Linked DNA regions of Homo sapiens. The protein of the gene in region 2 purifies or fractionates together with the protein of the main gene of each other region. This does not show direct contact. Each region holds a gene or a part of one and is shown on either strand. Other genes may lie near its edges.

What was found.
Region 1: the proteins of NCOA5 (region 2) and AMZ2 purify together in Homo sapiens (affinity purification with mass spectrometry, with the first as the bait; one large-scale study listed by BioGRID). This does not show direct contact.
Region 3: the proteins of NCOA5 (region 2) and WRAP73 purify together in Homo sapiens (co-immunoprecipitation; one study listed by IntAct). This does not show direct contact.

Annotation. Positions count from the first base shown.
Region 1 is NC_000017.11:68,250,921-68,254,381, reverse strand, and holds part of AMZ2 (archaemetzincin-2), read right to left. Parts: coding exon 3,415-3,461; intron 3,333-3,414; coding exon 3,204-3,332; exon of another isoform or gene 2,995-3,203; intron 1-2,994. UniProt on the Homo sapiens protein: Probable zinc metalloprotease.
Region 2 is NC_000020.11:46,060,466-46,063,356, reverse strand, and holds the end of NCOA5 (nuclear receptor coactivator 5), read left to right. Parts: coding exon of another isoform or gene 1-20; intron 21-467; coding exon 468-1,057; 3' UTR 1,058-2,366; downstream 2,367-2,891. UniProt on the Homo sapiens protein: Nuclear receptor coregulator that can have both coactivator and corepressor functions.
Region 3 is NC_000001.11:3,643,590-3,647,244, forward strand, and holds part of WRAP73 (WD repeat-containing protein WRAP73), read right to left. Parts: intron 3,194-3,655; coding exon 3,077-3,193; intron 1-3,076.

The DNA.
Region 1 (3,461 bases), on a different chromosome or scaffold from region 2:
GACAGAATGAGAGTAAGGTCCCTGAAGAAAGACCAAAGAAAGAAGAGACTGCTGGCCCATCTGGCCAGTGAGTGCATCTCTGTGTCACTGTGTCCACACCATCTGATACACTTATGGTTTGCCACCAAAAAGGAAGACTTTTGCCCCAGATTTCCCTATCAAAATCTTTTGCTGCTATCCACTTTGCCTTGCCTTGTAAAACTTAATGGACTTGAGGTCAAATGCTTGAGAAACTGAAGTTTCAGAGAGTCTTTTCCCACAAAAGAAGTCTTTTTCTGAAAGTAGCAAGTACTCCAAATCAAGTACTCAAAAAGGAATCATAAAAAATAACCACATGGGTTGGGCGTGGTGGCTCACGATTGTAATCCTAGGACTTTGGGAGGCCGAGGCAGGTGGATCACCTGATGTCAGAAGCTCAAGACCAGCCTGGCTAACATGGTGAAACCCTGTCTCTAAAAAAAATTAGCCAGGCATGATGGTAGGTGCCTGTAATCCCAGCTACTAGGGAGGCTGAGGCGGGAGAATGGCTTGAACCCATGAGGCGGAGTTGCAGTGAGCCAAGATCGCACCATTGCACTCCAGCCTGACGATAGAGTGATACTCAGTCTCAAAAAAAAAAAAATCACATGAACAATAGGAAGTCATGATTTCACTATTTAAGGACACACTAAACAGATCTGTTACACGTGTGTCTGGAGGGGTTGCTGGCCTTCCCTCACGCAGCACTGACTGAGGACAACTGCCCCTGATGTCTTGAAGCCCATGCTTTAAACCACGGCTTTTGACAGAATAACCTCGTCCCCTTCCCCAACCCTACCCCCTTTTCAAAGAACAGCTCAACTCTATTCTGTCACTAGTGTCTGGTGACCAGAATAAATACCCTTGTAACTGACTTCCTGTGTTACATTTAGAGTTATATCAACCATCTCTGCAAGCACAGAGAACACGGTTTGCTACATAACTCACCCTACAGGGTACTGCTTCATAATTCGACTTGTTTACATGATCACTTTTATTTATGTCTCTCGTTCAGTTTTTAAAGTAATAAACCCATAGTAGATTTGTCCAATCTAATTTGATTCAAAAACAAACTTCCTCACCTCCCTTTACCCAGAAAATGTAGACTGATATTTGAAAATTAAGCAAAGATAGCATTCTGGAAATTAAGAGCACACTAAATCTATTCCTTTATCACAAGTAACCCCCTCTGGCCAATCAAGTGTGAGCATATTTCACTACTTTCAGCAAGGACATTTCCTTCTTCCAATAATCCTACAAATAGACTATTTTTTTCGTAGTCAATGCGTCTCACTTTAAAAATATCAATCTTTGTAAACTCGGAGAAAACAAGACCACTGTGTTAAGATATTGTCACTGTCTAATCCTGCTACTTTCCTATGTAAATCTTTTATGTCATGTAATATTTAAGAAACTTACCAAAAAAAGAATTAAAGTAAATACAGTTTGGGGAAATGTTTCCTGACCTCCTCAAACACATAAGATAAGTTAGCTAGCAATATCTAGATAAACGAACATATGGTTTTAAAATTATTTTTTTAGCTGGGTGTGGTGACTCACACCTGTAATCAAAGCACTTTGGGAGGCTGAGATGGGAGGCTCGCTTGAGCCCAGGACTTCAAGATGAGCTTGACCAACACAGGGAGATCCCATCTGGCCAAAAAAAATCCCATCTGGCCAAAAATAAAATAAAATAAAATAGCCGGGTGTGGTGGTCCTGTGGTCCCAGCTACTCGGGAGGCTGAGGCAGGATGATCCCTTTAGCCCAGGAGGTTGAGGTTGCAGTGAGCCATGATCACACCACTGCACTCCAGCCTGGGTGACAGAGGGAGACTCTGTCTCAAAAGAAAAATAAAAGGTAGATAGAATTATTTTTCAATGTTTCCATCTCTATCAGGTTAATAATAAAAGAGAAAACTTATGATAAAAAGCTACCTCACACCACCAAAATCAGTAAGAAAGTAGTGACCCACGTCTCCAAGAGTGCATGCTGGTAGGGCCATGGGGGCCACAAGAAACCTCACATAAATGGAGAATAAAGAATAAAGGAGTAAGTGGGAAGAGGCTCTATAACCCTACAGCCCCCACCTCTAGTAGAAACATTTGTCCCAAAAAGCTTACCACCCCACACAAATCCTAAGGCTAATGTAACATCCAGACAGACCATAAACTCTCAGGATAGTCCCTGTACTTACTCCCCATCCCCAGAACACTAATGAACCACTCCCCTTAGGGGGCCTTTTCCCTTTCAAGTCTGTGTTGGATTCTTAGGGATGAAGTTAGAGAAATAAGAACAATAATTAAGGGGAGGGGAGAAGTAGAGAGATGACAAAAAAAAAAAAAGGTTAAAAATATGACCGGTTTGCAGAACCTTTCCCATCCCTAATATTACCATACAGAGTTCCTAATGAGTCAAGGTTTATTACATATCTCAAATCAAAGATGGACGTTTTGACTCTTTAAATTAAAAAACAAATGTCGTATGATGAGAAAGAAGCATACACTTAGTCTATGGCTATTCTAACTGTGCAAGATGACTATGAAAAGAATTGAAAAATAATTAGCAAGATTTTCACATCCATTGATAGCTCAAACTGTAATTGGTTTAATTCACCTTGCTACTGAATTACTGACATTTACTAGCTGTTATGCTGTATGCCTATATATATGCCAGGCCTATATATACATTTTTTTTTTGAGACACGGTCTCACTTTATTGCCCAGGCTGGAGTGCAGTGGCTCGATCATGGCTCACTGCAGCCTCAACCTCCTGGGCTCAAGCAATCCTCTCACCTCAGCCTCCTGCGTAGCTAGGACTACAGGTATGTGCCACCATGCCCAGCTAATTTAGTTTTTTAAATTTTTATTTTTTTGTAGACATGTGGTCTATGTTGTCCAGGCTTATCCACACTTTTTATGTACAGGCACTTTTATGTAAATTATCTCCAAATGACTCCATGATGTGGGTATTGTTACCTTTAAGGTCCTGTAGGTAGTGAGTGGCCAACCAGAACCTAGATTATCACAATCTACCAACAGCACACTTCCCATTATGGCATAATGTCTCAACTGAAAATATTTTAAATATCAATATGATTCTTGGTTGGAATTTTTTCCCTCTTCTAACATCTTCAAATATTCTCAAGCTGAAGAAGCTTCTAACAACAATGCCAAAAACGGAATACCATCTGTCAAAGAGGCCTGTCCAAAGACAAAATTCCACGAGTCTCTTGGGTAAAGATCAATCATTGTTATTCCCACAACACAGAAGGCATCTTCAGGTTTCTTCTTTTTCAAGAACTTCAGGATGTCCCCTATTTAAAAAGAAATACATAAATGTATGAGTGTATATTATATACATATACTCAGTTCGAATTGCAAAGTCGTGTAATTCACCTGCATGAATTTGTAGGTTGTGTGTGTTCTCATTGACTCTAAAGGAA
Region 2 (2,891 bases):
AGCTACGTGGCAGGGCCGAGGTGAAGTTCTGACTCTGCATTTCTCTAATCCCCAGGCTCTGTTGGGAGGGTGTCAGGCCCAGGGCTCTTTGGAGTGGGTAAGGGAACTAAGTCCATCCCTTGGGTTCTCCCGTGGGCCACCCATGCTGATATAATGTTAATAATAACTTTATATTTGGGTACTGAATGCTGATCCCTATAGTTAATGTGGTGGATTGACTAGTATTGCTGGCTCCGTGGTAGCCAGGATGGATGCCCTTTTGTTTTTTAGCAGTTCTCTAGGGGAACTAGCCTATTGTTTTCTGTAAACAGCACATATCATGAAGCGGCCTCTTTGGGAAATTGATGTTATCGTCTGTGTACTGTATGATTGATGTGACTCAGTGATTGTTGTTCTTCCTTTGGCTGCTAGGCCTCCTGCCCTTGGGGGGTACTTTGAACCAGATACCTCCCTCTTCTGTCTTCCAGGCCCGATTTCCCGCCAACCACTCGGGGCGACCTCGGGTGCCTCGCTGAAGACACAGCCAAGCTCCCAACCGCTCCAGAGCGGCCAAGTGCTCCCCTCTGCTACACCCACTCCATCTGCACCCCCCACCTCCCAGCAAGAGCTTCAGGCCAAAATCCTCAGCCTCTTCAATAGTGGCACAGTGACGGCCAATAGCAGCTCTGCATCCCCCTCGGTTGCTGCCGGAAACACCCCAAACCAGAATTTTTCCACAGCAGCAAACAGCCAGCCTCAACAAAGATCACAGGCTTCTGGCAATCAGCCTCCAAGCATTTTGGGACAGGGAGGATCTGCTCAGAACATGGGCCCCAGACCTGGGGCTCCTTCCCAAGGGCTTTTTGGCCAGCCTTCCAGTCGCCTGGCACCTGCTAGCAACATGACTAGCCAGAGGCCTGTGTCTTCCACAGGTATCAACTTTGACAATCCAAGTGTACAGAAGGCTCTGGATACCCTGATCCAGAGTGGCCCTGCTCTCTCCCACCTGGTTAGCCAGACCACAGCACAGATGGGGCAGCCACAGGCCCCCATGGGATCTTACCAGAGGCATTACTGAAGCTAAATCTTTCAACTCTCCCCAGTCCCCTCATCCCCTGGCCTCCTCCCACTTACTTGTTCTAAATAGAGCTGTTTGGAGGATGTTCTCTGCGCTCCCAGGCCGGCATCGAGTGTCATCAATTTCTACCACCTGCTCTCTCTTCTGCCCAAGGCTGTGTTGCTTATTCCTTACAAAGTTTATACTGCATTTGGGGCTGTATCTTTTTTTGTTTTTTGTTTTGTAGAAAATAAATATCTCCGGGGGCAGTACAGGTGTCTGGGCTTGTATTTGATGGGGTTTCTCCGGTCCCTGTTTCTACTGGATTTGGAGCCAGGCCCAGCTAGCCAAGTTTGGAATGGCATTTGTCATGTCAGTAGCCACCACCTTTGTTCATTGTGAACCTACCAAGGCTTTCCAGCTTCATACACATTGACCAGAGCTCAAGCTCCTGCCTGCAACTCCTGCCTAGAGTTGAAGAAAAGCAAACTGGCCTTGGCAGGCACAGTGTCATCATACCCTCACCCCATATGTTTGGGGTCTGCTTGAGGATTCATAAATCAGCCACTCTGGATTGTTGAGGAATGGCCATGGCAGCCACAGAAAAAAGAATTTTTCTCTCTGAGCCAAGGTTGTTTTTTGTTTTTTTCTCTTTTCTTTTTTGTTTTCATTTCATTGGAAGATCTCCAATGGACTGAACAGCTCCAGTCAGCAGCAGTTACCACAAACTGTGAATCTGGGCCCCACCACTCTTCCCTGTTAACCAGTTCTGTCAGCATCCCCCTCTCCAGCAGCACTTCCATGAAGTTGGTTCTGAGACTCTGGCCGTGAACACCCGTTTCTTCAGTGATTTGTTTTGGGCTTTTGGCTCAAAACCCCAGGCTCTTGTTTTTGTCTAGACTCTTATTCTGTTTCCTGAGCAGCAGGAGGTAGGGACCACTTTGATGTCAGACTTCTGGTAGCTGGACATGTTCTCGAGATGGGTGGCTGTTCGCGACTTTTGTACCAGAGTGAAATTGTTAGAAGGAGGGTTTCTGGCTGTGGTTCTAAATGGAGCCCCAGGAAGCTGCCCTCTCCCCAGGGTTTGTGCTCAGTAGAGCCCTGTGGATCACAGTCTTGAGGTCCTCTAGCAGGGGTGAGGGAGAGCAGCGACTTCAGCTGAGTCCCTGCCAGTGGTTAAGCAAACAATGGTTTCAAAATTCAAGGTCCCCAAATGGCAGCATTTTATGTTCTGACCTGTTTGTGTTATATAGTGGTTTTTTTTTTCCTCTTTGGAACTCTTGTGTTGTTAATAAAATGAAATGATTACTTTTTAATTAAAATGAAAAAAGTAAAAGCTTTGTTCATCTTTTTTGGGTGTGAATATGCTCTTTGCAGGATGCTTTCCCCAAGTCAGAGGTGAGGGCTCCTGTCTCGAGGACTCTGGTCTGCCCCCTTTTGTCCTCAGCATATGATCCGGCCTCAAACCTCTTTGAACCCTGCCTTCTCTTCATAGGTAGCTCACTTAGAGGCTTTAATAACAGTTCAGAGCAAAGGCCTGTTGGCTAATTATAGTGCTGTGTTCAACATCCTGCTTCTGGTAGACATTCATTGTGTCAGCAGCCTTGTCCTCTTATTCTAGGAAAGGAAAACAGGATGTGAGGAGGCCATTTGTGGTTAATGGCCATTGGTAGGGGGGCACTTCCTGTTTTCATTTTGTCTCAGTTGCCACCCTCTGTTCTACCCATTGTGCAGGGAGTTGGCAGAATTCATAGAACCTGAAGGAGCCTTGAAGAGCATTTAATAACTTGGGGTGGGTGTGGTGAAGTGGGTGGCACAGGCCTCCAGTGAGTTAGGGACCAACGTGCCAAGAGCA
Region 3 (3,655 bases), on a different chromosome or scaffold from region 2:
CTTCGGAAGGGGACCCAGCGGCCCCGCTGAGCCCCGGACATGGGGTCGCGCCTTCGGAAGGGGACCCAGCGGCCCCGCTGAGCCCCGGACATGGGGTCGCGCCTTCGGAAGGGGACCCAGCGGCCCCGCTGAGCCCCGGACATGGGGTCGCGCCTTCGGAAGGGGACCCAGCGGCCCCGCTGAGCCCCGGACATGGGGTCGCGCCTTCGGAAGGGGACCCAGCGGCCCCGCTGAGCCCCGGACATGGGGTCGCGCCTTCGGAAGGGGACCCAGCGGCCCCGCTGAGCCCCGGACATGGGGTCGCGCCTTCGGAAGGGGACCCAGCGGCCCCGCTGAGCCCCGGACATGGGGTCGCGCCTTCGGAAGGGGACCCAGCGGCCCCGCTGAGCCCCGGACATGGGGTCGCGCCTTCGGAAGGGGACCCAGCGGCCCCGCTGAGCCCCGGACATGGGGTCGCGCCTTCGGAAGGGGACCCAGCGGCCCCGCTGAGCCCCGGACATGGGGTCGCGCCTTCGGAAGGGGACCCAGCGGCCCCGCTGAGCCCCGGACATGGGGTCGCGCCTTCGGAAGGGGACCCAGCGGCCCCGCTGAGCCCCGGACATGGGGTCGCGCCTTCGGAAGGGGACCCAGCGGCCCCGCTGAGCCCCGGACATGGGGTCGCGCCTTCGGAAGGGGACCCAGCGGCCCCGCTGAGCCCCGGACATGGGGTCGCGCCTTCGGAAGGGGACCCAGCGGCCCCGCTGAGCCCCGGACATGGGGTCGCGCCTTCGGAAGGGGATCCAGTGGCCCCGCTGAGCCCCGGACATGGGGTCGCGCCTTCAGAAGGGGACCTAGTGGCCCCGCTAATCCTCGAACGGGTCTGGTCCTTGCTCTTGTGAATGAGACTGATGGACGGTGCCCGCAGCTCACTTCCTGGCCAGCACGTCTGGAATTCCGGTTTTGTTTCCTCACTTGCAACCATTAAAGTTCGCATGCAAAGCTGGAGACACATTTTGACATCTTGGTCAAGATGCCCCATGCCTTGAGGTTACCGGTCCTCATCCACCACCTGGTCTTAACGTTTCCTCTAAGGCCACCAGCAAAGTGGTCATGACCTTAGTCTTAGGTTGAACAATGTCATCTAAATGTACTCTATGAAAAATCAGTTTGTTCTGTAGCAAAGGTGTTTTCAATATTGGTGTGTGTGACATGGGATGCTCAACAAAACCAGGCTTTTATCCATCTTTTAAGGTTTCTAAACTCTATAGATGGTAGTTTTCCTTCTGGGCCATTTAATAAGATAATACAACAAGGCTGACCCCATGACATGAGCCCTTCTCAAGGGCAGATTTGGGCCCAAAGCATTACAGGCCTGAAGACTGTTAGACACGGCTGCGTGAAAAGCTCAAATTATCCTCTCTGAAACACTCAGGCCGAAAGTGCCTTCCAATGTCAATACATAGTGCGGAGACATTGGTGGGCCTTTGTTTCCTGTCTTATTCTCTGACAGCCCATAATAGCAGACATTAGATTTGGAGTATTTTTTAAAATCGAAACTGAAAAATATGTAAAGCCATCCAGCCATCTGAAGCAGTTGATTCAGCAACCCTCATGGCTGGATAAAACTTTATCCCAGCCGATGCCAGCTTGAAAAAAGCCGAATGAAACCCTACAGAGCATCTGCAGCCACACGCTGGGAGAAATCCTCCCAGGTGCCATCATCTACGTGGTGTGCGCGGCGCAGCGGGACGGGAGGGCTGCAGTGTGGTGTGAGCGGCGCAGCGGGATGGGCGGGTTGCCCCGTGGTGTGCGTGGCGCAGCGGGACGGGCGGGTTGCCCCGTGGTGTGCGCGGCGCAGCGGGACGGGCGGGTTGCCCCGTGGTGTGCGCCGTGCAGCGGGACGGGCGGGTTGCCCCGTGGTGTGCGCGGCGCAGCGGGATGGGCGGGTTGCCCCGTGGTGTGCGCGGCGCAGCGGGATGGGCGGGTTACCGAGGTGCAGCCAGCAGCCCAGACAGCTATGAGCACTCAGTGGACTTGGGCCCAAACACTGGGATCCAACTCCATCAGAAAAGCACATTATTAAAGGAATTCGTCCATTTTTCTGTATCTTAAAAAGACACTGCGGACACCAAAGACCTGGTATCTAAACACTTGACATATGCCTAATTTTAACTTAAAATGCAGTCTCCTATCCCAGATCCCTCTGATTTATTCTCGGATGTCAACATTCCCCTCCGCGCTGAGCTCAGCACGGAGGCTGTTGTGCGGTACCTACAGCAGGTGAATGGGCGGCTGCCGACCGCCCCGAGCCACGCCCCCAGGCCAGGCTCCTGAAGGAAAGGTGCGAGCCGGCTCATATCACAGCGCATTTTCTATCGTTGAATTAAAGGGAGTGCCGAAATCCTAAAAAATCTAAATTAAGATTTTTAAAATGTTTTTTCTTCAAAACTGGACAAAAGATCAGACAATAATACTTAGTGGCTTATAATGCTCTGACCTAAAATATACACACCACTATATACGCTCCCCGGCTCCCTCCAACCCCGCCAATCTACCAGCCACTCGGGAGCCACCTCAGTCATCAGACCCAGGGCAGCAGACAGTGCCTGTGTTCACGACACCCTTATCTGACTCAGTAGCAGCCCAAAGCACGGGCGGTGGGGCTCGCAATCTGGATACGCCAAAGAGAAGCCACAAAGTGCTTCCTTTAAATGACGAGCTGAAAGTTCTTGACGCAACAAGGAAAGAAAAAATCCTATGCTGAGGTTGTTGCTCAGATCTTCAGTAAGACCAAATCTTCTATCCATGCAATTATAAACAGTATATTGTTATCCTTGTTCTATACTATGATTGTTGCTAATCTCTTACTGTATCTAATTTATAAATTAAATGTATCACAGGTATGCTGTATAGGAAAAAACACAGGAAATACAGGGTTTGGTACAATCTGAATCCCCTGGTGGTCTTAGAATGCATCCCCTGAGGATAAGGGGAGACTAGCATACTCCAAACACACCCCCTCTCGCACTCCCCAGCTGTTTCGAGAGCAGAGGACAGGATCACATGGCCAGTAAGGTGTCTTGGGGCTGACACTTACATGGAATTCCGTGGTGTTGAGAATGTGGCGCCCGTCCGGGCTCCAGCACGAGGCCACCAGCCCGGCTGAGCCCTCGTCTATTTTGCAGTGCCATTCGGGCTGCTCTAAAGACCAGACCTGGATTGAGAGAAGAAAGAAACACACAAGTGCAAACTCATCAGCACCGAGAGACAGCGAGGACAGCTCGCTTAAACGCAGCGGAGACCCGACCGCACAGGGTGTCTTCAAACTCATCAGCAGTCTATAGCGAGGCCTCGCCGAGAGACAACTCCCTTAAAACCAGCAGAGACCCGATCACACAGGGTGTCTTTTAGAACCTTTCATGATGAAGGGCTGGTGCTGGATTCCAGTGTAAAAGTAAGCCACGCTTCTTGGTGATTTCATTTCGTTGTTGTTTTAAAACTGTTTATTCACATTGTCATTCCTAAGACCTCATTTAGTTAAGCTTTGGACACAGAAGAAAACACGACTTCTTAGGACTTCCTGAAACACACCACATCCGCGTGGCTAGATTGCTGTCAACACCTCCGTTTCTCAACTATATTGCTTAGAAATTAAGACTACGTTGGAGTTTCCTTA